Linked DNA regions of Homo sapiens. The protein of the gene in region 1 binds, or shares a complex with, the protein of each later gene. Each region holds a gene or a part of one and is shown in the gene's direction. Other genes may lie near its edges.

Region 1 (7,021 bases):
AGGCAGGAGAATCACTTGAACCCGGAAAGCAGAGGTTGTACTGAGCTGAGATCGCGCCACTGCATTCCAGCCTGGGTGACAGAGCGAGACTCTGTCTCAAAAAAAAAAAAGACTAATGATAAATTGCCAGGTGTGCTGGCTCACCTGTAATCCCAGGACTTTGGGAAGCCAAGGTGGGTGGATCACCTGAGGTCAGGAGTTTGAGACCAGTAGAACATGGTGAAACCCCGTCTCTACTAAAAATACAAAAAAGTAGCCAGGCGTGGTGGTGAGCGCCCAGCTACTCTGGAGGCAGAGGCTGCAGTGAGCCGAGATCGTGCCACTGTACTCCAGCCTGGGCAACAGAGTGAGACCTGTCTCAAAAAAAAAGACTAATGCTAAATCAGTGATTGCAACATTGACTATGCTTCCATAAACTTCACCCCAACCTCGGAGGTTCTTACATGCTTCCCACCTCCTCTGCGCATTTCCTTCCGGGCTTGAACGAGGGAACGTGTCAAGAATTTCTCTTCATTCCTCTTCCCTTCCTTGGCCAACTGGTGATGTCCACAGCAAAGCGGACCGAGAGCACGCACCCCAGCAGAAATCGGGAGAGAATGCCAACATCCAGCCCAACATCCAGCTGATCCTCCGGGCGGAGCCCACTGTCACAAACATCCTCAAGGTGAGTGTGCCCTTCCCTGGCCACCACAGTCTTCTCTTTCTTCTTTCCAGTGCTCCATCTGCTTGCAGATAAATAAACAGAGGCCACAGACCTCTGTCTCCTTTAGCTTTTATACATAGTTGCTTTGGAGGTAGTGAAAGGGGAGGCAAGGGCAGCTACCACTGAATGCTAACCCGTGGGAGCTTCATTTGTACACCAGGCACTGCAGTAGGCGCTTTCACTTAGGCCATCTCACATGGAAACAACAGAGACGTGGGTGCGGTGGCTCACGCCTGTAATCCCAGCATTTTGGGAGGCTGAGGTGGGAAGATCCCTTGAGGTCAGGAGTTTGAGACCAGCTTGGCCAGCGTGGTGAAACCCAGTCTCTACTAAAAACACAAAATTCACTGGGTGTGGTGGTGCATGCCTGTAATCCCAGTTACTTGGGAGGCTGAGGCAGGAGAATCGCTGAACCCTGGGGGGCAGAGGTTGCAGTGAGCCAAGATCGCACCACTGCACTCCAGCCTCAGCGATAGAGCGAGACTCTGTCTAAAAAAGGAAAGGACAGAGAAGATCCTAGCCGTGACCTTGCCCACTCCAACCTTACCACCTGCATGCCAGTGTAGATGAGAGGGATGGATCGGAGAGCAGGGGTGGGTTTTAGGAATGATTTTCCAGATTGAAGTCAGAAAGATGTAGATTACATTCCAGGTTGTGAAGAGAGAAAATGTGGCTAGGCTGTATCTTGGGTGGGGGGTCTTCAGTGTTCTTCAGGACTTGATTTCCTGTCCTGTCCCCAGACGATGGATGCAGACCACTCTAAGTCACCGGAGGGACTGCTGGGAGTCCTGGGCCACATGCTGTCCGGGAAGAGTCTGGACTTGCTGCTGGCTGCCGCCGCCGCCACTGGAAAGCTGAAATCCTTCGCCCGGAAATTCATCAAGTGAGGAAGGCCAAGCCCCTGACCCCAGGGCGTGCAGGGAGGCTGCGCGTTGGGAGGAGGTAGCAGGGTAGGAGTCAGGTGCCTGGGTCTGGGTCTCATCCAGAGACCCACGGGCCTAGGCAGAGCATCCTGGCTGGAGATCTTGGAGGAAGGGCCTGTTCTCACGACCTAAGTGTTCCTTTCTCTTCAGCTGAGGATGGAGTGGACATGTTTGGTAAAGAGATGAGGGTAAGGGTTGAGGTGTTGAACATTGGGCATGGAGGAATTCCAAGTATGCCCAGTTATTAATAAGGGGCTCTCAAATTCTGTTGCCTTTTTTGATTGCCCTGGAATTTGACATATATAGAACATGGTTCCATTCAGTGAGCCATTCTCTAGGCCTTGGAAATCTTCTAACAATAAAAATCCTTCTGGCCGGGTGCGGTGGCTCACGCCTGTAATCCTAGCACTTAGGGAGGCCAAGGTGGGCGGATCACCTGAGGTCAGGAGTTCAAGACCGGCCTGGCCAACTTGGTGAAACCCTGTCTCTACTAAAAATACAAAAAATTAGCCGGGTGTGGTGGCGGGCACCTGTAATCCCAGCTACTTGGGAGACTGAGGCAGAAGAATTGCTTGAACAGAGGCGGAGGTTGCAGTGAGCTGAGATTGTGCCACTGCACTCCAGCCTGGGTGACAGAGCGAGACTCTTTCTCAAAAAAAACAAAAAAAAAACAAAAAACAAAAACCACAAAAACCTTTTTTCTATAGCAATGTGTCTCATTTTAAGTTTAACCAGTAACTCAGACTCTAGCTATCGCTCTCTGAACATGTGTAGCCCCAGCGCCCAGCTACTGCTCAGCTCATGCCCTGGTCAATGCAGCCTGTCTCCATTCCTTTCAGTTTGAATGAATTCACAACCTATGGCAGCGAAGAAAGCAGTAAGTCAGCCCTGTGCATCCGCAGGCCCAGTGGGCCCTGAGGAGGGGTGTGGCGGGAGAGTGTGGGAGGGAGGAGGGCTCCCCAGCTCAACAGGGGGAGGCTGTGCTCCCTCCTCAGAGCCATGACCAATGGAAGCTTCCACAGAGCTTGAAAGTGGATAATGCTGGAAAAGGATTCTTCCCAGACCATCCCTGTGTCTCCTTCCCCCCCTCATCCCTTTACGACTTGGTTAGGTATGCCAGGAGAGGGTGCTGGGGGTCTTTGGTCTCAAGGAAGGGATGATGTTCCAGTTGAGACTCAAGAAAAGGATTCTGAGCCTCAGAGCTTTGAAGGAGCCACTTGGTCCCTGACCTTCCTAGAGGCAAATCCCGATCCCTGTCAACCCAGACACGGGCTCCCCCCTGCCCTCGTCTGGGAGCTCAGCCTTCCCGTCCTTCCACAGCCAAACCGGCCTCCGTCCGGGCCCTGCTGTTTGACATCTCCTTCCTCATGCTGTGCCATGTGGCCCAGACCTATGGTTCAGAGGTGAGAGAGGGGAGCGACCGGGACGGGGGCTCAAGGGAAGGAGGTAACCCGGAACTCTCCCCACCTCACTGCCTGCGCCCCCGCAGCCTCTCAGCCAGTTAGTTCTGTGGGCCTCAGAAACCAGGTGCCCACCCGGGCTGGAGTCCGTAGAGGCACCTTCAGCCCTATGTTCACATTGACCACTAGGTGGCAGCATTGCCCCCGTCTGGCTCCCTTAGACCAGTTCGTCCCCAGTCTTTGGGCTGGGCTGGAGCAGCAGCCTGGCGGGAAACAGTGCAGCCCCAGGTCCAGCGCTGGCAGGCGCCGCGCCCTCCCCACTCGGCTGGTGCCCCCCTTCCCCTTTCCCAGGTGATTCTGTCCGAGTCGCGCACAGGAGCTGAGGTGCCCTTCTTCGAGACCTGGATGCAGACCTGCATGCCTGAGGAGGGCAAGATCCTGAACCCTGACCACCCCTGCTTCCGCCCCGACTCCACCAAAGTGGAGTCCCTGGTGGCCCTGCTCAACAACTCCTCGGAGATGAAGCTAGTGTCAGTGGCCCGGGCGCCCACTCCAAGGGTGGCGGTGGGGGCAGGGTCAAGACCCGCTCCCTGAGCCCGTTCCTTGCTCCCCTGTGCTGACTTCTCTGCACACCCGCAGGCAGATGAAGTGGCATGAGGCCTGTCTCAGCATCTCAGCCGCCATCTTGGAAATCCTCAATGCCTGGGAGAATGGGGTCCTGGCCTTCGAGTCCATCCAGGTAGCCCCGCCTTCCCAGCAGCGTTTGCTCCCCTGAGACACAGAGCCAGCCAGTGATGACTTGTTATATTTCGTAAGGGCAAGAAGACCTTTAATCCAGGAGCTCATGTTTTGATATTGATATTTTGTGTAATCGTTGTCTTAGCTACTCCCTCTGGCCCAGGTAGCTCTGGGAAGATCAAACTTGTGGAGAGAGGTGTGGAATGTGGCCCGGGACTCCACCCGCTGCACTTAGCTGCCCGCAGAGGCTGAGAAGGTGATGTTGGCTCAAGAAAGGGAGATAGATGGTAGCCCATCACCTTTCCGTCTCCCCTAGAAAATCACTGATAACATCAAAGGGAAGGTATGCAGTCTGGCGGTGTGTGCTGTGGCTTGGCTTGTGGCCCACGTCCGGATGCTGGGGCTGGATGAGCGTGAGAAGTCGCTGCAGATGATCCGCCAGCTGGCAGGGCCACTGTTTAGTGAGAACACCCTGCAGTTCTACAATGAGAGGTCGGTAACCTGCCTTCCCTTCTCAGACCCTTCAAGTGTGTTGTGAGAAGTCAGCACATCCAATAACAAGCACCCCTCTCTTTTCTGACCTTCGCAAACACGCTACTTGATCACTCACTCACTTTCCTATTCATGCATTCACTCATCTGACTCAGCAAACATGTACTGTGTCTCTGTGGCAGAAGCGTTTATATGCCAGCACCTGCTGTGTTGTCAGAAATGCAGACCCTAAACAGGGTCTGCCCGCAGAGACTCAAGTTCTAGACAACTAGCTCCCAAAAGAACAAAGCTGTGTGACTGTCTAGGAGCTAGGAACCTGTCTGTAGATTTTACAGGCCATGCCCCACCCTCAGTTACCTCTTAGGACAGTTTCCTGCCCTGGCTCTTCAGGGGCTTGGAGGACTTCCCTGGTGACCAGTTACGTTGAGTTCATTCACCCAACCAATAAGTTGTTTGCTTTTTTTAATTGTAAAAAACACATAAGATTTGCCATCTTAGCCATGTTTAAGTGTACTGTTCAGTAGTGTTAAGTATATTCACACTGTTGTGTAACAGGTCTCCAGAACTTTCTTGCATCTCTGAAACTCCATACCCACTGAACAACAGCTTCCTATTTTCCCCTCCCTCCAGCTCCTGGTAACTACCATTTTACTTTGTGTGTCTAGGAATTTGACTACTTTATACTTTTTGTTGTTGTTGTTGTTGAGACAAGGTCTTACCCTTGCCCAGATCAGAGTGAGTCTCACTGCAACCTCAAATTCCTGGGCTCAAGTGATCCTCTCGCCTCAGCCTCCCGAGTAGCTGGGACTGCAGGCCCACAGCCGGCTAATTTTTCTAGTCTTTGTAGAGACAGGGTCTCACTATATTGCCAGGTCTTGAACTCCTGGCCTTGAGTGATCCTCTCACCGTGGTCTCCCAAAGTGCTGGGATTACAGGCGTGACCCACCGTGCCCTGCTGAATTTGACTACTTTTTAGATGCCTCATTTAACTGGAATCATACAGTCCTTGCCTTTTCGTGACTCACTGACTTCACTCAGCATGGTGTCCTCAAAGCTCATCCATGTAGTAGCACGTGACAGGAATTCCTTCCTTTTTAAGGCTGAATAATACTCTGTTGTGGGCCGGGCGTGGTGGCTCACGCCTGCAATCCTAGCACTTTGGGAGGCTGAGGTGAGTGGCTCACTTGAGGTCAGGAGTTTAAGGCCAGCCTGACCAACATGGTGAAACCTTGGCCTTACTAAAAATATAAAAATGAGCAGGGAGTGGTGGCAGGCGCCTGCAATCCCAGCTACTTGGGAGGCTGAGACAGGAGAATTGCTTGAACCCAGGAAGCGGAGGTTGCAGTGAGCCGAGATCACGCCACTGCACTCCAGCCTGGGTGAAAGAGTGAGACTCTGTCTCAAAAAACAAAACAAAAACAAAAGAAACCTCTATTGTGTGGCTATACCACATCTTGATCCCTCCTCTGTCAGTGGACACTTCAGTTGCTTCCACCTTTGGGCTATAGTGAATAGTGCTGCTGTGAACATGGGTGTTTACCAGCTAATACGTTTTGGGTGTTGCCATGTCTTTATGGCAACGTTGAGGATGTCTTTATTTATTTATTTATGTACTTATTTTTGAGACGGCGTTTCGCTCTGTCACCCAGGCTGGAGTGCTGTGGCACTATCTAGGCTCACTGCAATCTCCGCCTCCTGGGTTCAAGAGATTCTCCTGCCTCAGCCTCCCGAGTAGCCGGGATTACAGGCATGTGCCACCACACCCGGCTAATTTTTGTATTTTTGGTAGAGATGGGGTTTCACCATGTTGGCCAGGCTGGTCTCGAACTCCTGATTTCAGGTGATCTTCCCGCCTCAGCCTCCTGAAGTGCTGGGATTATAGGCATGAGCCACCGCACCGGGCCTGAGGATGTCTTAATAGGGAGAAGGGGAAGCATTGAGCTGAATGAGGTTTGGACGGTCTGGAAAAGCACATCTCGTTTTCCCCTTGCCTCCTCCTTTTTTCCTTTCTTCTCTCATTTCTCCACCACCTTCCCCCCCGCCCTACCAAGTAGGGAGCTTTTGCTCTGGTGTAACCCATTCTAAGCACCCTAAATCCTATCTGGGTAAGGGGTAGTGAGAAGTCTGTGGCTCCATTGTGCAGGTGGGAAAAGTGGCTCTAAAGGTCATAGCAACTTTCCCAGAGCCACCCTGCATTCCAGGAACAGTCAGCACTCGGCCCGGGTCTGTATTCACTTCCGAAGCCTCTTTCCATGAGAAAATTCCTGGATATACACTTCTATCTGCCCAGCTACCAGGGGCCGGGAAGAGTCCTGTGGGGCAGCCCTTGGGCCTCTCCTGGAAGGAACAGTTTACTTTGGGAGGAGGCCAGGGCTGGGCGGGGACCCCCAAGCACTCAGCCTAGGGGGAAGTGATTGTGTTTATTTATGTGGCAGGTTGGCAGGGCCCAGGCCTGGGGGATGGGGGAAGTTGGAGAATAAAAGAAAATGTGAATATCTGGCTGGAATGGCCAGGGGGAGGAAAGTCCCTCCCCAGTCCCTATTTATAGGCTTTGTGTCCTGCAGGTGAGAGACCTGCCAGGAGCAGAGCAGGGGCCAGGTCACCCCGGGGTATACCGTCCCCCAGCGCAAAACTGGGTTAATGCCTCAGGGAGATTTCCGTAACCTAAGTCCAAGGGAAAGTCTGGCATGGGTGTTCCCTCCTCTCCCTCCCCACCCTACAGTGGCACCTGAGCCTCAGGTTCTCTCGGCCCTCCCCCAGGGTGG
Region 2 (7,021 bases), on another chromosome or scaffold:
GGAAACTTACAGTCGTTTATTGGTCTATATGGAAATAGAGTCTTTGGGCATCAAAGGATTTATCAGTAAGACAGGACTTTCTGGTGTTTATAACTATTAACCCATTCATTAACTCTAAAGTTACTTTTCTAGGTCCTGGGGACACAGCAGAGAACAAGTCACCACCATGATGGAGCTTATGGAGGAGGACATTAAATAAATGAAATATACAATATGTCAGATGATACATGTTATAGAGAAAAATAAAGCAAAAAGGAATAGGAAGTGTGAGGGTTGGGGGGTTTGTTGCATTTTTAAGTAAAGTGGTAAGAAAAGGTTAATGTGCTAGGTGCCTGGGATGCAGTGAGCAGGATAGACCTGGTCCCTGTCCTCATGCAAATGGATTCTGCCTGAGGCAGCAATGCTGTCCTCCAGTGCATACGAAGTCTGACTGGAAATAAAGAAGGAATTTTCCTACCTTGCAGAAGATACATTATAATGTCTCATTTATTATATAGTTCTAAAATAATAGATACTTTCTGATATAGAAGTGTTTTTCTGATTCATGGTAATTCCAGCTTTTCACGAATACAGCATAGTCTTAATTTTAACCACAATAACTCTTCTTAGATAACTGATTGTTGAACAAAACTTTCTTGGGGGTAGGAGGAAACAAGGGCAGGTATAATACAATTTTTTGTATTAAAAAGTGAACCTCATACTTCAAAAGGTATGGAACATTAATTGTCTAAAAATAAAAGATATCAGAATTGAGAAGATTAATGTTTTTTCATATCTTGTCTCATTTTATTTTTCCAGATAAACATGATTATCAATTGCCAAATCCCAGGAAAAAAGCAAACTTGATATTATAGTTAGGATCTGAATTTTTCCTTACTGTTAAAGTAGAAAATAAGAAAATATGGAGAATATATATGTGTGTGGGCGTGTGTATTTTCACAATCAAATCTTTATATTTTACTCAATGTGACTTTCTTCAAATATCTTTTCATGCATAGCCTTTAATAATTGGTACCTTAAATTGTCTTTTTCCTCCAGGTCAGCTTTTGCCAACTGTTTTCAAATCACATGCATGGGGGATCTTACACACACTCCTTGAGATGTTTAGCTACCGGATGCATCATATTCAGCCTCATTACAGAGTTCAGCTCCTGAGTCATCTTCATACTTTGGCTGCAGTTGCACAAACAAACCAGAACCAGCTCCATCTTTGGTGAGCTCATTGAAGACCATCTTTCCTTAAGATTTATTAGAAACTTTCTTGGAGATGAGGTTCTTAATCCTTTACCTTTACCTTATAGTTTTTTTTTTTATTATTATTCATCTGTCATAAAACTTCTCTGCTTCTAAAGTATTTTGTTTCCAGTATAGGAGCAGAGTCCAGCTTTTTAAATAGAAACTGATTAAGATAGTTGAGTCCTTCCTTCAGGATCTTTGGACTGAGAATTAGTACTTCCAGGGTATTTATTATTATGTTGTAACTTAGCCCTTTAGAATGCTGGTTTTAAGTATACTTCAGATTATGGTTAAAGTATCATGTCACATTGATTTTGCTTTACATTAAAATATATTTTAGATAGAAAAATATAATTTTTGAAATGCAGTATCTCCAGGTGAAATTTTTTAGTCCTATAGGCGACAAGCCATCTTTTTCAAATGTGTAAAAAGTCACGATTTTCACTATAAAATTGGACACATTAGGTTTTTTAAACAAATTAAGCAACATTTATTCTCACACAAAAGTGTTTTTTTAAAGAAGGGATAGTCATAGATTGCATGTTTTTCCATTGTAATTAACCTTAGATTTAATTCCATAATTCTGAAATTTTTTTACATTTCTTTTTATTCTCCCAATTTTCAGTGTCGAGAGCACTGCTCTCAGGCTTATAACAGCATTAGGTAGCTCAGAGGTACAACCGCAGTTTACACGCTTCCTTAGTGATCCCAAAACAGTGCTCTCAGCAGAATCTGAAGAACTGAACCGAGCCTTGATATTGACCTTGGCTAGAGCAACTCATGTAACAGGTACGGTGAATATGTGACTACAAACAACAACAGATGAATTAAAGTGTGCCATGATTCTACTAATTACTATAGTTGTAACATACTAAAAAGATACTTTTCATTTGTTTGAAAAAAGCCTGTTGTTTTGATATCTTCACTATTTCACTCATTTATGGAAGCTCTTTTGTGTACCATCATTCTATTAATAACTGCGTTGAGCATCGTTTTCAGCTATCCATAATTTTAAAGTAGTAATACTTTAAGCTTTTTGGTCTCAGGACTGCTTTACACTCTTAAAAACAAAATTGAAATTCCCAAAGAGTTTCTGTTTATATGGATTATATCTATGGATATTTATTATATTAGATATTAAAATTAAGAAGTTTAAAAATATTTATTAATTTGTTTTTAAATAGCAATAATAAACATTACATGTTAATATATGATGTTATAAAAAAAGTATATTTTCTAAAGCAAAACTTTAGTGAGAAGAGGTGCCATTGTTTGACATTTTTGCTTCTCTAATATCTGGTGTAAAGGAAGACATAGTTTGGATTCTCATCTGCTTAGACATTTAATCCATTGAAGTTTTAGTTGAAGTAAGTGAAAAATGTGGCCTCACACAGATGAGGTTGGAAAGAGAGGAGTATTTTAATAGCTTTTTCAGATAATTGGGAATGTTCTTTGACATCACATGGAAAAATGATAGTTGCTTAAAGGTTAGCTGCAATATGGAATCCAAAACCCCCAGTAAACTTCATGTACTTTGTTACATTATAATCTGTACATCTGTTTTATACATTTAGTGGATTTTTAAATCCATGCATGTTTTGTAACTTCATGAATTATTCATTTTGAAAATACTGGTTCACTGAGTTACGTAGATCTAGCAAACGTTGACATTTTGTTTATACAGTATCAGAAAATTACATTTGTTAATATCACTGCAAAGTTTATTAGAAAAATCTAAGTTTTGGAATGCTATCATGTCGTGGTAGATACAGGTTTTCCAAAATTTCAATTTTTACTTGAAAGGTCAAATTTTATCATTGGAAAAAGTTACTATCATTTGTTTTCCTTAAAGTGACAAGCTCATTTTGTTAATTTTCAAGAAAATGTCTGCTAAATACGTAAGTCTAGCTAGCTATAGTTTTCTGTCAGACGTTCTTTCAAGTAAAATTGGAATTCAAAAAAAAAAAAGCAGCTGATTTAACTCAGTGCTCAGTCAGTCACACAAGTGCACAAGTGTTTTTCCTCAAGACACCCATCAAACTTGGAACACTAGGCATATGCTTCCCCTTTTGTTACATATGATGTTAAAAATAGGTGTCGAGATTGACACTGGCACTTTTCTTTCACTGAGTGCATGTGCTGGAGAATACAAAGCCTTTTCATCTAGTCTGGCACCACTGTTTGATTTGTGCTTAGGACCAGCAGTTTTACCACCATTGCTTTTGTACCGTCAGTGCTCATACCAAGTGAAAAAGCCTGATATCTTTTTATTATTATTTGACCTCATTGAATCTTTGAAGGGCTATTGGGGAATCCCCAAGAGGTCTACAGACCACACTTGAGAACTGATGTTTTAAAGAGATAGTTATTGGTTTTAGCAACCTCAAATACGTTTATGTAAATTATTTTGTTTTACATAAAGAACCCTCTTCAATTCTGAGATTTATACATGCATTATGTAATTATTTCACTCACCAAAAAAGATATCTTTCTTTATTCTGTTCCCTTGGCCGAATAAAGTACTACTAAATCAGTGTCAAAGTAAATGAACAGTAGTGATGGGCTTGTATTACTGTTATCGCTGGTACTCTGTAACCTCAAAAAAAGAGATTTCAAATGTCTTTTGTCATCTTTTCATAAACTGTTCTCATATTTTCTAATGTGATCATCCAGATCATTCATAAACTAAGCAAATTTAGGTTCTAAGCTGAATATAACTAGTTAAGCAGTGAATGCACTGCAGTGAAATTCTCAGTGTACATAATTATTATTTTCGCTATAATCTTTTATGAATTGTGGATATAATCATTTATATCTGGATTACATCTATTTGTTTATGTTTAGATTTTTTTACAGGCTCTGATTCAATTCAGGGAACTTGGTGTAAAGACATACTTCAGACCATCATGAGTTTCACTCCTCATAATTGGGCTTCACACACCCTGAGCTGTTTTCCAGGCCCACTACAGGTAATTTGGTCTTGAATTACTTATTGAATGCACATGAAATCCTTCTTCCCATTCACAATGGTGTTCTAGAGTGAGTCTTGGTGACTTCTGAATAAAATTAGCTTTTATTTATTTTAAAAAATATTTAGGGGCTGGGCATGGTGGCACAAGCCTCTAGTCTTAACTGCTTGAGAGGCTGAGGCAAGGGGGATGGCTTGAGCCCAGGAATTCAGGTTCACAAGGAACTATGGTCACACCACTGTACCACAGCCTGGGTGACAGAGCCAGACCCTGTCTGTAGAAAAAAAAAAAAAAGTCATTACTTACAAAATCTCTCAAGTTGTTCTGTGTCCTACTCTGGTACTGGACATGTTTCTAAAAATTTAATTATTATGGTTTCATCTTAGTTAACAGTTTTAAGGGGAGGAAGAGTAGAAAGAGGAAAAAAATAAAAGTGAAAAAAATTGAAAAAGAGAAAAAAATAGTTAATGGTTTTAGAATCTCATGAAAATTAACATAGTACCTGAAAACTTTTTTCTCTCTCATAGAACTGAAATGGGGAGAAGTATAACGTAATGGAGCTTCACAGAGTGTGCGTAATATGACACTTCACTGAATTTTTTTCTTAATCACAGAAAAACTGTAAACCTGGCTTTTCTAATAAGGAGAAAGGCAAACCTCATCTGTCTTCTCCTTTTCAGAAAAAATGTTAGGCATGATGAACATCCATTTTTCATAACTCCTGGTAGGGCTAGAGCATTTGGTTTTTAAACTTACCAAATCACCTGGAGGGCTTGCTAAGCTGCAGTTGGCTGGGCCCCCAGCCACAGAGCTTCTGATTCAGTAAATCTGGGATAAGGTCTGAGAATTTTGCATTTCTTGTAAGACCCAGATGATGCTGATACCGCTGGTGTTGGGACCACACTCTGAGAATCACTGGGCTAGTGCAATGGATTTTCCTCAAAGACACTAACATATGTAGCCAAAGGGTAGAGACACTTCATTCTTTTTTTTCTTTTTAAGATTGGCGGAAGTATCAACAGATGATTGAAGAAGCTTTGAATTCAGGCTTACTTAGAATTTCCATTTAGGAAATCTAGGAAAAGGAATCTTGGAGATAATCTAGTCAAGCTTATGTATTTTCCAGACACAGAAATTCAGGCCTTAATTGCTGAGTTGCTCAAGGTGACCTAGAGTTTATTAGTGTCAGAATCAAGTCTAGAACTGGTTTATTAACTCCATATCCAGTGCTCTTTCTACTATAACCAATGAAATAAACTTCTAATCCTCTTTTTAGGCATTCTTCAAACAAAATAATGTGCCTCAGGAAAGCCGTTTTAATCTGAAAAAAAATGTGGAGGAGGAGTATAGGAAGTGGAAGTCAATGAGCAACGAAAACGACATTATTACCCACTTCTCTATGCAGGGCTCCCCTCCTCTCTTTCTTTGTCTTCTCTGGAAAATGCTCTTGGAAACAGATCATATTAATCAGATTGGCTATAGGTAAGTCAAAAACCTAATTTGCATTCCATTTGGCAAATTGTTGTATCCATACAACAATGGAGTTTATGTTTTACTCTCTGCCTTCCAGAGTATTAGAGAGAATTGGAGCCAGGGCCTTGGTAGCCCATGTGAGGACATTTGCAGATTTCCTGGTATATGAGTTTTCTACATCAGCAGGGGGTCAGCAACTCAATAAATGCATTGAAATTCTTAATGACATGGTATGGAAGTATAACATTGTTACACTGGACAGATTAATTCTCTGCCTGGTAAGAATAAATACATTTCTAAGCTTATTCTCTTAGATCAAGATGTATGACTAATATATGTTATGCCAATCTGCTCTATATTGCTTTGAAGGATTTAATGAATTTATACTATATCAAGCATTGCTGTCACTTCCCTAAAGAGCCGGAAATTTTCCAATTTCTGTTTTTGTTTGTTTTTGTTTTTTTGTTTGTTTTTTGAGACAGGGTCTCGCTCTGTCGCCCAGTGCAGTGGCGTGATCATGGCTCACTGCAGCCTCAACCTCCTGGTCTCAAGCAATCTCCTCCTGCCTCAGCCTCCTGAGTAGCTGGGAGTACAGGCATATGCTACCATACCCAGCTAGTTTTTTTTCTTTTTAACTTTTTTATAGAGATGGGGTTTCTCCATGTTGCCCAGGCTGGTCTCGAACTCCTGGGCTGAAGCAATCCTCCCTCTTCAGCTTCCCAAAGTGCTGGGATTACAGGCGTGAGCTACTGCTTCCAGCCCCAATTTCCTTATTCATTCATTTAATAAGTACATATTGAATATCAACTGTGTTCTATGTATAGAAGGTACAGAAGTAAATAAAATAGATGTGGTCCTAGCCTTGTGATACTTTGAAAATATGAGCAATTAGACCCTGAGTTGATTCTCCAAAACTCCCACTAGAGGGAGGAAGTAGCAGTAAGTCACTGTGTTTCTTTACAGAGTGCGAATATAACCATTTCTGTACACTTTGGTAACAAACATTCCCCAAATGTTTTTTTCTTCTCCTGACTTTGATGTCTATTTCCAGCAGAATTTTTTTTTTCTTTTTTTTTTTTTTTTTTTTTTGATATGGAGTCTTTCTCTGTCGCCCAGGCTGGAGTGCAGTGGCGTGATGTTGGCTCACTGCAAGCTCTGCCTTCCGGGTTCACGCCATTATCCTGCCTCAGCCTCCCAAGTAGCTGGGACTACAGGTGCCCACCACCACACCCGGCTAATTTTTTGTATTTTTAGTAGAGATGGGGTTTCACCGTGTTAGCCAGGATGGGCTCAATCTCCTGACCTCGTGTTCTGCCCGCCTCGGCCTCCGAAAGTTCTGGGAT
Region 3 (7,021 bases), on another chromosome or scaffold:
TTCCTCTGTGCCATCAGAAACCAATACGAAGATAAAATGGGAAAAAAAAAATCCCATTCACGGCACAGCCTGCCGAGAAACGCGTGAGACCCAGGCGGGGGCTGCGAGGCTAAACCCCAGCGTGGCTGGGATCCGTAGCCAGTGACAGCGCTAGTGATGGCGAGACCTCGCCCTCTCCCTCCTTGGGCCGTCGCTGTGTGCCAAGCGTTTCATTTTTGTTTTTAGTTGTTTCTATTTTTTGTAGAGATGGGGTGTCCTACGTTGCACAGGCTCTCCAACTCCCAGCCTCCAGGAATCCTCCAGCCTCAGCCTCCCAAAATGCTTCAGCTCATTCATTCATTCTCTCTAGACCAGGGTCTCCCCGTAGGCACCACAGACATCGGGGGCTGGAGCAGCCTCTGGGATGGGGGTGTCCTGTTGAGCAGCCTCCCCAGCCTCCACCCGTTACTTGGCAGGGGCACCCCCAGTGGTGACAACTAAAAATATCTCCAGACATCACCAGGGGCCCCCACCAGAGGCAGAGCCGCTCCCAGCTGAGAACCCAGCACCTGGTCCTGTGCGCCTGGTCTTCCGCACCTGTTTTGCCATGAGGTTGCTGAGGTGCAGAGGCGAAGCAGCTTGCCCAGCTGACCGAGCGCCTGGTGTCAGAGTCGAACTGCTCTTCTCCTCAGCTGGAGCCTTGGCGGGCGCCTCTGCTCCGGCCCCTTGGGGTGACCTGGCTTCCTGCCCTCAGGTCCTCTCCACCCGGATCCTGGCCATGAAGGCCTCGCTCTGCAAGCTGTCGCCCTGCACGGTGACCCGCGTGTGCGACTACCACACCAAGCTCTTCCTCATCGCCATCAGCTCCACCCTGAAGTCGCTGCTGCGCCCCCACTTTCTCAACACGCCTGACAAGAGCCCCGGCGACCGGCTGACCGAGATCTGCACCAAGATCACCGACGTCGGTGGGTCCTTTTCCACGCCCGGGGCCTCGAGGTTTCTTTCATCTATTTATTTTATTTTTATTTATTTTTTTTACTCTTTTGAGATAGGGTCTTACTCTGTTGCCCAGGCTGGAGTGCAGTGGTGCGATCTCAGCTCACTGCAGCCTCCGCCTCTCTGGTTCAAGTGATTCTCCTGCCTCAGCCTCCCAAGTAGCTGGGATTACAGGCACGTGCCACCACGCCCGGCTGATTTTTTGTATTTTTAGTAGAGACGGGGTTTCACCATGTTGGCCAGGCTGGTCTCGAACTCTTGACCTCAAATGATCCGCCCGCCTCGGCCTCCTAAAGTGCTGGGATATAGCCTAAAGGCTGGGATTACACCACACCCAGGCTTTTAGAGACGGTCTCACTGTGTCATCCAGGTTGCAGCACGGTGACGCAGTCCCAGCTCAGCGCAGCCTCTGCCTTCTGGGCTCAAGCAATCTCGCCTCAGCCTCTGGAGTAGCTGGGATTACAGACACGTGCCACCACACCCGGTTTTTAATTTTTTGTAGCAACAGGGTCTCACTGTGTTGCCCAGGCTGGTCTTGACCACCTGAGCTCAAGCGATCCTTTCACCTCTCTCTACTCCTGGGGGCTGAGACGCTCCCAGGCCGACACCCGGCACCCGGGTCCTGTGCAGGCAGGTCTGCTCCTCCTTCCGTTTTGCCGTAAGGGGACTGAGGCAGAAAGGCTAAGCAGCTTGCCCAGGCTCACCCAGCACGTGGTGTCCTACTCGCCTCTGCCTCCCAAAGCGCTGGGATTACAGGCGTGAGCCACTGTGCCTGGCAGGCTGTTTCTTTTAAAAATTAGGGTTGCTGGGCGTGGCGACTCGTGTGTAATCCCAGCACTTTGGGAGGCCAACGCGGGCTGATCACGAGGTCAGGAGATCGAGATCATCCTGGCTAACACGGTGAAACCCCGTCTCTACTAAAAATACAAAAATCAGCCGGGCGTGGTGGCGGGCGCCTGTAGTCCCAGCTACTCGGGAGGCTGAGGCAGGAGAATGGCGTGAACCCGGGAGGCGGAGCTTGCAGTGAGCTGAGATCACCCCACTGCACTCCAGCCTGGGCGACAGAGTGAGACTCTGTCTCAAAAAAAAAATTTAGGGTTATCGTTTGTCTGGAGTACCCGGTTGAGTGTGGACACGTGGCACTCCTGGTAGCTGGGAGCCGTGTGCACAGTCATGGTTAGTTCTGTGGGACCACCCTAGTCACCATCCGAGAGGCATCTGTTGGGTGTGTAACCGCCGCCAGCTGCCAGCCGGGGGTGGCTGCAGCTGCACGCTGTGGACATGCCCCTGTGTTCACAGAGTTCACCTCGGAGCAGGGGGCAGATGTGCACCAGCAGGCCGGGCCTGAGCACTGGTGGCCCTGGCATGGGGACCTGCCCACGCCAAGGCCTGCAGGCCGAGAGAAGCTGGTTGGTGCTGAGCACAGCGGCCCCCGGGGGGGGGCAGGCAGTGGGCTCCCAGTTCCTCTCCGTCCGGCAACGCCATCGCCCCCTTCTCGTTCCCGGTGTGGGTCCCCTTGTGTCCTGGTACTGGGTGGGCACTCAGTGCAGGTCGAAGGACCGAGGGGTGCAGTTAGGTCACCCTGTGTGTACAAGAGGCCCGAGCTGACCCGACCCACGTCTCCTTGTAGACATTGACAAGGTCATGATCAACCTCAAGACGGAGGAATTTGTGCTGGACATGAACACACTGCAGGCGCTGCAGCAGCTCTTGCAGTGGGTGGGCGACTTCGTGCTGTACCTGCTGGCCAGCCTACCCAACCAGGTGCGCCATGCTCTCCCCTAAGGCCCCGCCCCCCACCTGGGCCCCCATCTCATCAGGACCCCGCTTCCCTGCCCCTGCCCCTCAAAACCACCTCAGCCCCGCCCCTAGTTGGAGTCCCGCCCCTACTTGGAGTCCCGCCCCTACTTGGAGTCCCGCCCCTGCTTGGAGTCCCACCTCAGCCCCGCCCCTGGTTGGAGTCCCACCCCTACTTGGAGTCCCACTTCCTGAGTCTGTCTCTTCTTAAACCCCCACTTCCTAGCCCTGCCCCACTTCCTAGCCCTGCCCCACTTCCTAGCCCTGCCCCACCTCGGAGCCCTGCCCCATCTCGGAGCCCTGCCCCACCTCGGAGCCCTCCCCCACCTCGGAGCCCTCCCCCACCTCGGAGCCCTGCCCCACCTCGGAGCCCTGCCCCACCTCGGAGCCCTGCCCCACCTCGGAGCCCTCCCCCACCTCGGAGCCCTCCCCCACCTCGGAGCCCTGCCCCACCTCGGAGCCCTCCCCCACCTCGGAGCCCTCCTCTCCATGAAGCCTCTGCTGTAAGAAGCCTTTCCTTGGCCACACCCTTCCTGCCCATTCTCAAAGCCCCGCCTCCCAGGCCCTGCTCCTTCTCAGCCCCACCCCTACACGAAGGCCGGTTCGCCTTGCTTCTGCTGCTGCTGCCCCCACCCCTTACCCTCCCCAGCTCCCTGCGCCTGGGGTGGGCGGCCTTGAAATCAAGTCTCCATCCACACCTCCACCTTCAGTTCTGCGGCTTGTGCGCCCCTGACCAGGGCTCCAACCTCGCCCCCACCCCCCCGCCGGTACACTCTGTCCTGCCCCAGCTGTGATTTCTTCTGCCCCACCCACCCGGCTTCATCCTGCCCTGGGGCCCGCCCTTCTCCACCGCGCCCATCACGGACGGTTTGAAGTCCCTCTCTTCTTTTTGTGGGGCTTTAGGCTGCCAGGGGCCACCCCTGGGGCCTCCCTTCCCTGGTCCTCTCAGCTCCCAGTACAGTCACCAGGGGCCCGGGCCCGCAGCTGTAGGAGGGGGCGGCTGCTCCTCCACGTGCAGGTGGGGATATTGGCCTCAGCCAGAGCCTCGTCTTAGTCTTGTGGACTCTCAGGGATGGGACGACTCTGCAAATGGGGCTGTCCTGGGCCCTGCAGGGCTCTGAGCAGCGTCCCCGGCATCCACCCACTCGGTGCCAGAAGCACCCCAGTCCTGACCACCACAAATGTCCCAGACCCTGCCCATTGCCCCCCGGTCGGGGTTCCACCGACCCCAAGACACTTCATCCCATCGCCATCTGCCCCCCGCCGCCCCAGCCACACCGATGCCTCTTTCGGGCAGGGTTCCCTGCTGAGGCCGGGCCACAGCTTTCTGCGGGACGGCACCTCGCTGGGCATGCTTCGGGAATTGATGGTGGTCATCCGCATCTGGGGCCTTCTGAAGCCCAGCTGCCTGCCCGTGTATACGGCCACCTCGGATACCCAGGACAGCATGTCCCTGCTCTTCCGCCTGCTCACCAAGCTCTGGATCTGCTGTGAGGCACCCCCGCCCGCCCCTCCCCTCTCCCCGCTCCCCGCTCTCCCCTCTCCCCGCTCCCCGCTCCCCGCTCTCCCCTCTCCCCGCTCTCCCCTCTCCCCGCTCTCCCCTCTCCCCGCTCTCCCTTCTCCCCGCTCTCCCCTCTCCCCTCTCCCCGCTCCCCTCTCCCTACCAAAACACAAGTCCTGCCTGAGCCCCCCGCCAGAACATAAGCCCCTGCAGGTGGCAGTGGCTCTGCCTTGATATCTGCTATTTCCCCAGTTCCTAGCACAGGTCCATGCTCTGTGTGGGTGCTTTTGGGATGGCAGCCACTTCCAGGCACCTGTTTGCTGTCTCTCCTTGTCGGGTTGTGTGTATGTGAGGAGGGTGAGCTGTGTCATTCTTACATCCCAGTGTCTGGAAAAGGCACAGTGCTTCCCACATACTTTTTAAGTGAATGAGGGAGTCTCATGACAGGCCAGAGACGGGGAGAGAACTCTGGGGTCACCCAGCCAGGCAGGCAGAGCCGGGGCCCCGACCTGGTGAGAGAACCCCGGGGTCACCCAGCCAGGCAGACAGAGCTGGGGCCCTGACCTGGTGCTCCTGAACTGGAGGGGCTCCCAGCACGTCCCGGGTGGCCGGGCGGTGCCCCAGTCAGGGGTGCTGAGACTTCCGCCACCTCTCTCCGCAGGTCGCGATGAGGGCCCAGCGAGCGAGCCGGACGAGGCGCTGGTGGATGAATGCTGCCTGCTGCCCAGCCAGCTGCTTATCCCCAGCCTGGACTGGCTGCCAGCCAGCGACGGCCTGGTTAGCCGCCTGCAGCCCAAGCAGCCCCTTCGTCTGCAGTTTGGCCGGGCGCCCACGCTGCCTGGCAGTGCTGCCACCCTGCAGCTCGACGGCCTCGCCAGGTGCGTGTGTCCCTGCATTGGTCCCCAAACACAGGACTCCTTCCTCCGTGTCCTGCCCCGGGACCCCCGAATCCACACGGCTCCCTCCCTGCATGTCCTGCCCCAGGTCCCCCCGAATCCACACGGCTCCCCGCCTCCATGTCCTGCCCGGGACCCCCCGAATCCACACGGCTCCCTCCCTCCATGTCCTGCCCCGGGACCCCCCGAATCCACACGGCTCCCTCCCTCCATGTCCTGCCCCGGGTCCCCCCGAATCCACACGGCTCCCTCCCTCCATGTCCTGCCCCAGGACCCCCCCGAATCCATACGGCTCCTTCCCTCCATGTTCTCCAGTCATGGCCATGACTGCTGCTTCCTTCTAGGTGCCCCTAACTCCATCCCCTAGTGGTGTCTTCTGCTGTGTCACGAACCACCCCCAACACGGGCACCCAGCCCTTCCATTCACCCTCTCCCTTTTTTTTTTTTTTTTTGTCTCCCCGACAGGGTCTCACTCTGTTGCCCAGGCTGGAGTGCAGTAGTGCCGTCTTGGCCCACTGCAACGTCTGCCTCTCGGGTTCAAATGATTCTCCTACCTCAGCCTTCCCAGTAGCTGGGATTACAGGCATGAGCCACCACACCTAGGTATTTTTTGTATTTTTGGTATAGAGGCGGTTTTGCAATGTTGGCCAGGCTGGTCTTGAACTCCTGACCTCAGGTGATCCACCTGCCTCGCCCTCCCAAAGTGCTGGGATTACAGGTGTGAGCCACCGCCCCGGCCTTGCCTTGGTGTTTCCTGATTGTGTGTTGGCCTCGCTGTACAGGGCGCCCTGCCTTAGCCTCTGCCCTTAGTCTCTGGCCCCCCTGGATGTCAGGCCTCGCCGTAGATCCCTCTGTGGATGGAGAGAGACGCCTTAGCATATGGCCCAGGGCCCTGCTGAGCAGACACCTCATCAGGAGGATCTCCCGGGGGCAAGAGGTCACCTTGCAGGGCCCGGGGCTGGCCTTTCTCTGGAATGTGCGGGGTTTGGGCAACCCAAGTGTGCTGAGCTGACCCTGGCTGCCCAGCAGCCCTGTGAGGTGGGACCTTGTCACCCCATTTCACGGTGAGGAAACCCAGCCTGGAAAGGGTGGGACCTTGTCACCCCACTCATCTGGGGTCACGCGGTCAGGAAGTGGCCGAGTCAGGATTTGAACCCAGGCCCGTCAGACCCCCAGCCTGTTTCAGACACACGTTTGACAAGGAGCACATGCAAACCCTCTGAGCCACTGATTGCTCAGGGCTGGAATTTTAGAAAACACAGATGAGCAAAAGGAAGAAAATGAAGTGAACCTCCAGCAGCCCTGCTCCGGGGAAGGCCCCGGCTCGGCTCCAGGACCTCCAGGGAAGGCACCCCCGGCTTGGCTCCGGGACCTCCGGGAAGGCGCCCTGGCTTGGCTCTAGGACCTCCAGCATTTTCTTCCTCGTGCTCACTGTGGGAGGGGCCTCCTAATGAGTCACACACGAGGGTTTGGGTTTCAGGAAAAGACTTGATGGAAAGAGAGGACGGTTACGTCAGAGGCTTGTAAACTGGGAAAATTTCAGATATTTAATGAGAGCAGAATAAGCCGGCCCACCCCCACCCAGACCCAGGTCCCCCACCCACCACCGAGGGCAGCTTTTGCCACCAGAATCTTGTCGTTCAGAGGTCCCGGCACCTCCAGGCCGGGTGTCTGGGCAGAGGTGGTGTGGAAGTCCCCATGTACCTGCTTCTGTCCAGCCTCAAATGGGAGCGTCACAAGCACCTTCCCTGCACCTCAGGCTCCCCGGGCACGTGGCGGACCGACCCTCGTCCCTGTGTGGGCCCCGTCCCCTTTACTGGGTCTCTAAGCCTCAAGCTCCCCAGGCACCTGG

The links. Proteins that work in one complex are often made in the same cells at the same time.
Region 2: the proteins of MED24 (region 1) and MED23 are in contact, whole or in part, in a cryo-EM structure (PDB 7EMF), measured with the Homo sapiens proteins. Residues at the interface, in NP_055630.2 of Homo sapiens: Lys238, Thr239, Leu280, Leu283, Lys287, Val291, Glu295, Cys336, Glu339, Phe340, Lys343, Leu344, Thr345, Pro346, Leu347, Asp349, Lys350, Gln353, Lys384, Glu720, Lys721, Trp723, Thr756, Arg757, Lys758, Glu759, His760, Met802, Asp803, Pro804; in NP_004821.2 of Homo sapiens: Asn150, Thr151, Val152, Ser153, Ser154, Glu193, Gly194, Leu196, Pro197, Trp199, Leu201, Gly202, Asn203, Ser206, Asp207, Asp210, Arg213, Tyr258, Asp259, Lys260, Phe263, Ser1133, Arg1139, Ser1176, Glu1180, Glu1182, Trp1183, Val1184, Tyr1186, Arg1189.
Region 3: the proteins of MED24 (region 1) and MED16 are in contact, whole or in part, in a cryo-EM structure (PDB 7EMF), measured with the Homo sapiens proteins. Residues at the interface, in NP_055630.2 of Homo sapiens: Ile539 (codon at 3,462), Leu540 (codon at 3,465), Asn541 (codon at 3,468), His544 (codon at 3,477), Pro545 (codon at 3,480), Glu593 (codon at 3,733), Arg629 (codon at 4,156), Met630 (codon at 4,159), Leu631 (codon at 4,162), Gly632 (codon at 4,165), Leu633 (codon at 4,168), Asp634 (codon at 4,171), Glu635 (codon at 4,174), Asp676, Gln679, Gln680, Thr681, Ala682, Pro702, Pro703, Lys704, Arg705, Pro706, Ile707, Lys708, Glu709, His737, Met738, Gly739, Gly740; in NP_005472.2 of Homo sapiens: His29, Cys30, Pro31, Ser32, Arg52, Asp54, Asp55, Gln56, Glu82, Asp102, Val126, Glu127, Gly128, Asp129, Pro130, Val184, Ser185, Leu187, Thr203, Glu204, Ser205, Cys207, Arg208, Leu209, Arg210, Gly211, Arg212, Asp232, Gly233, Ser234.

What each region holds. Positions count from the first base shown.
Region 1 is NC_000017.11:40,023,391-40,030,411, reverse strand, and holds part of MED24 (mediator of RNA polymerase II transcription subunit 24), read left to right. Parts: intron 1-552; coding exon 553-664; intron 665-1,443; coding exon 1,444-1,586; intron 1,587-2,465; coding exon 2,466-2,503; intron 2,504-2,766; exon of another isoform or gene 2,767-2,870; intron 2,871-2,946; coding exon 2,947-3,029; intron 3,030-3,377; coding exon 3,378-3,556; intron 3,557-3,665; coding exon 3,666-3,765; intron 3,766-4,002; exon of another isoform or gene 4,003-4,080; coding exon 4,081-4,256; intron 4,257-7,016; coding exon 7,017-7,021. UniProt on the Homo sapiens protein: Component of the Mediator complex, a coactivator involved in the regulated transcription of nearly all RNA polymerase II-dependent genes.
Region 2 is NC_000006.12:131,597,222-131,604,242, reverse strand, and holds part of MED23 (mediator of RNA polymerase II transcription subunit 23), read left to right. Parts: coding exon 1-65; intron 66-1,038; coding exon 1,039-1,213; intron 1,214-1,861; coding exon 1,862-2,025; intron 2,026-4,080; coding exon 4,081-4,205; intron 4,206-4,732; coding exon of another isoform or gene 4,733-4,738; exon of another isoform or gene 4,739-4,776; intron 4,777-5,481; coding exon 5,482-5,687; intron 5,688-5,775; coding exon 5,776-5,956; intron 5,957-7,021. UniProt on the Homo sapiens protein: Required for transcriptional activation subsequent to the assembly of the pre-initiation complex. Component of the Mediator complex, a coactivator involved in the regulated transcription of nearly all RNA polymerase II-dependent genes.
Region 3 is NC_000019.10:869,167-876,187, reverse strand, and holds part of MED16 (mediator of RNA polymerase II transcription subunit 16), read left to right. Parts: intron 1-733; coding exon 734-944; intron 945-2,605; coding exon 2,606-2,739; intron 2,740-4,069; coding exon 4,070-4,262; intron 4,263-4,934; coding exon 4,935-5,151; intron 5,152-7,021. UniProt on the Homo sapiens protein: Component of the Mediator complex, a coactivator involved in the regulated transcription of nearly all RNA polymerase II-dependent genes.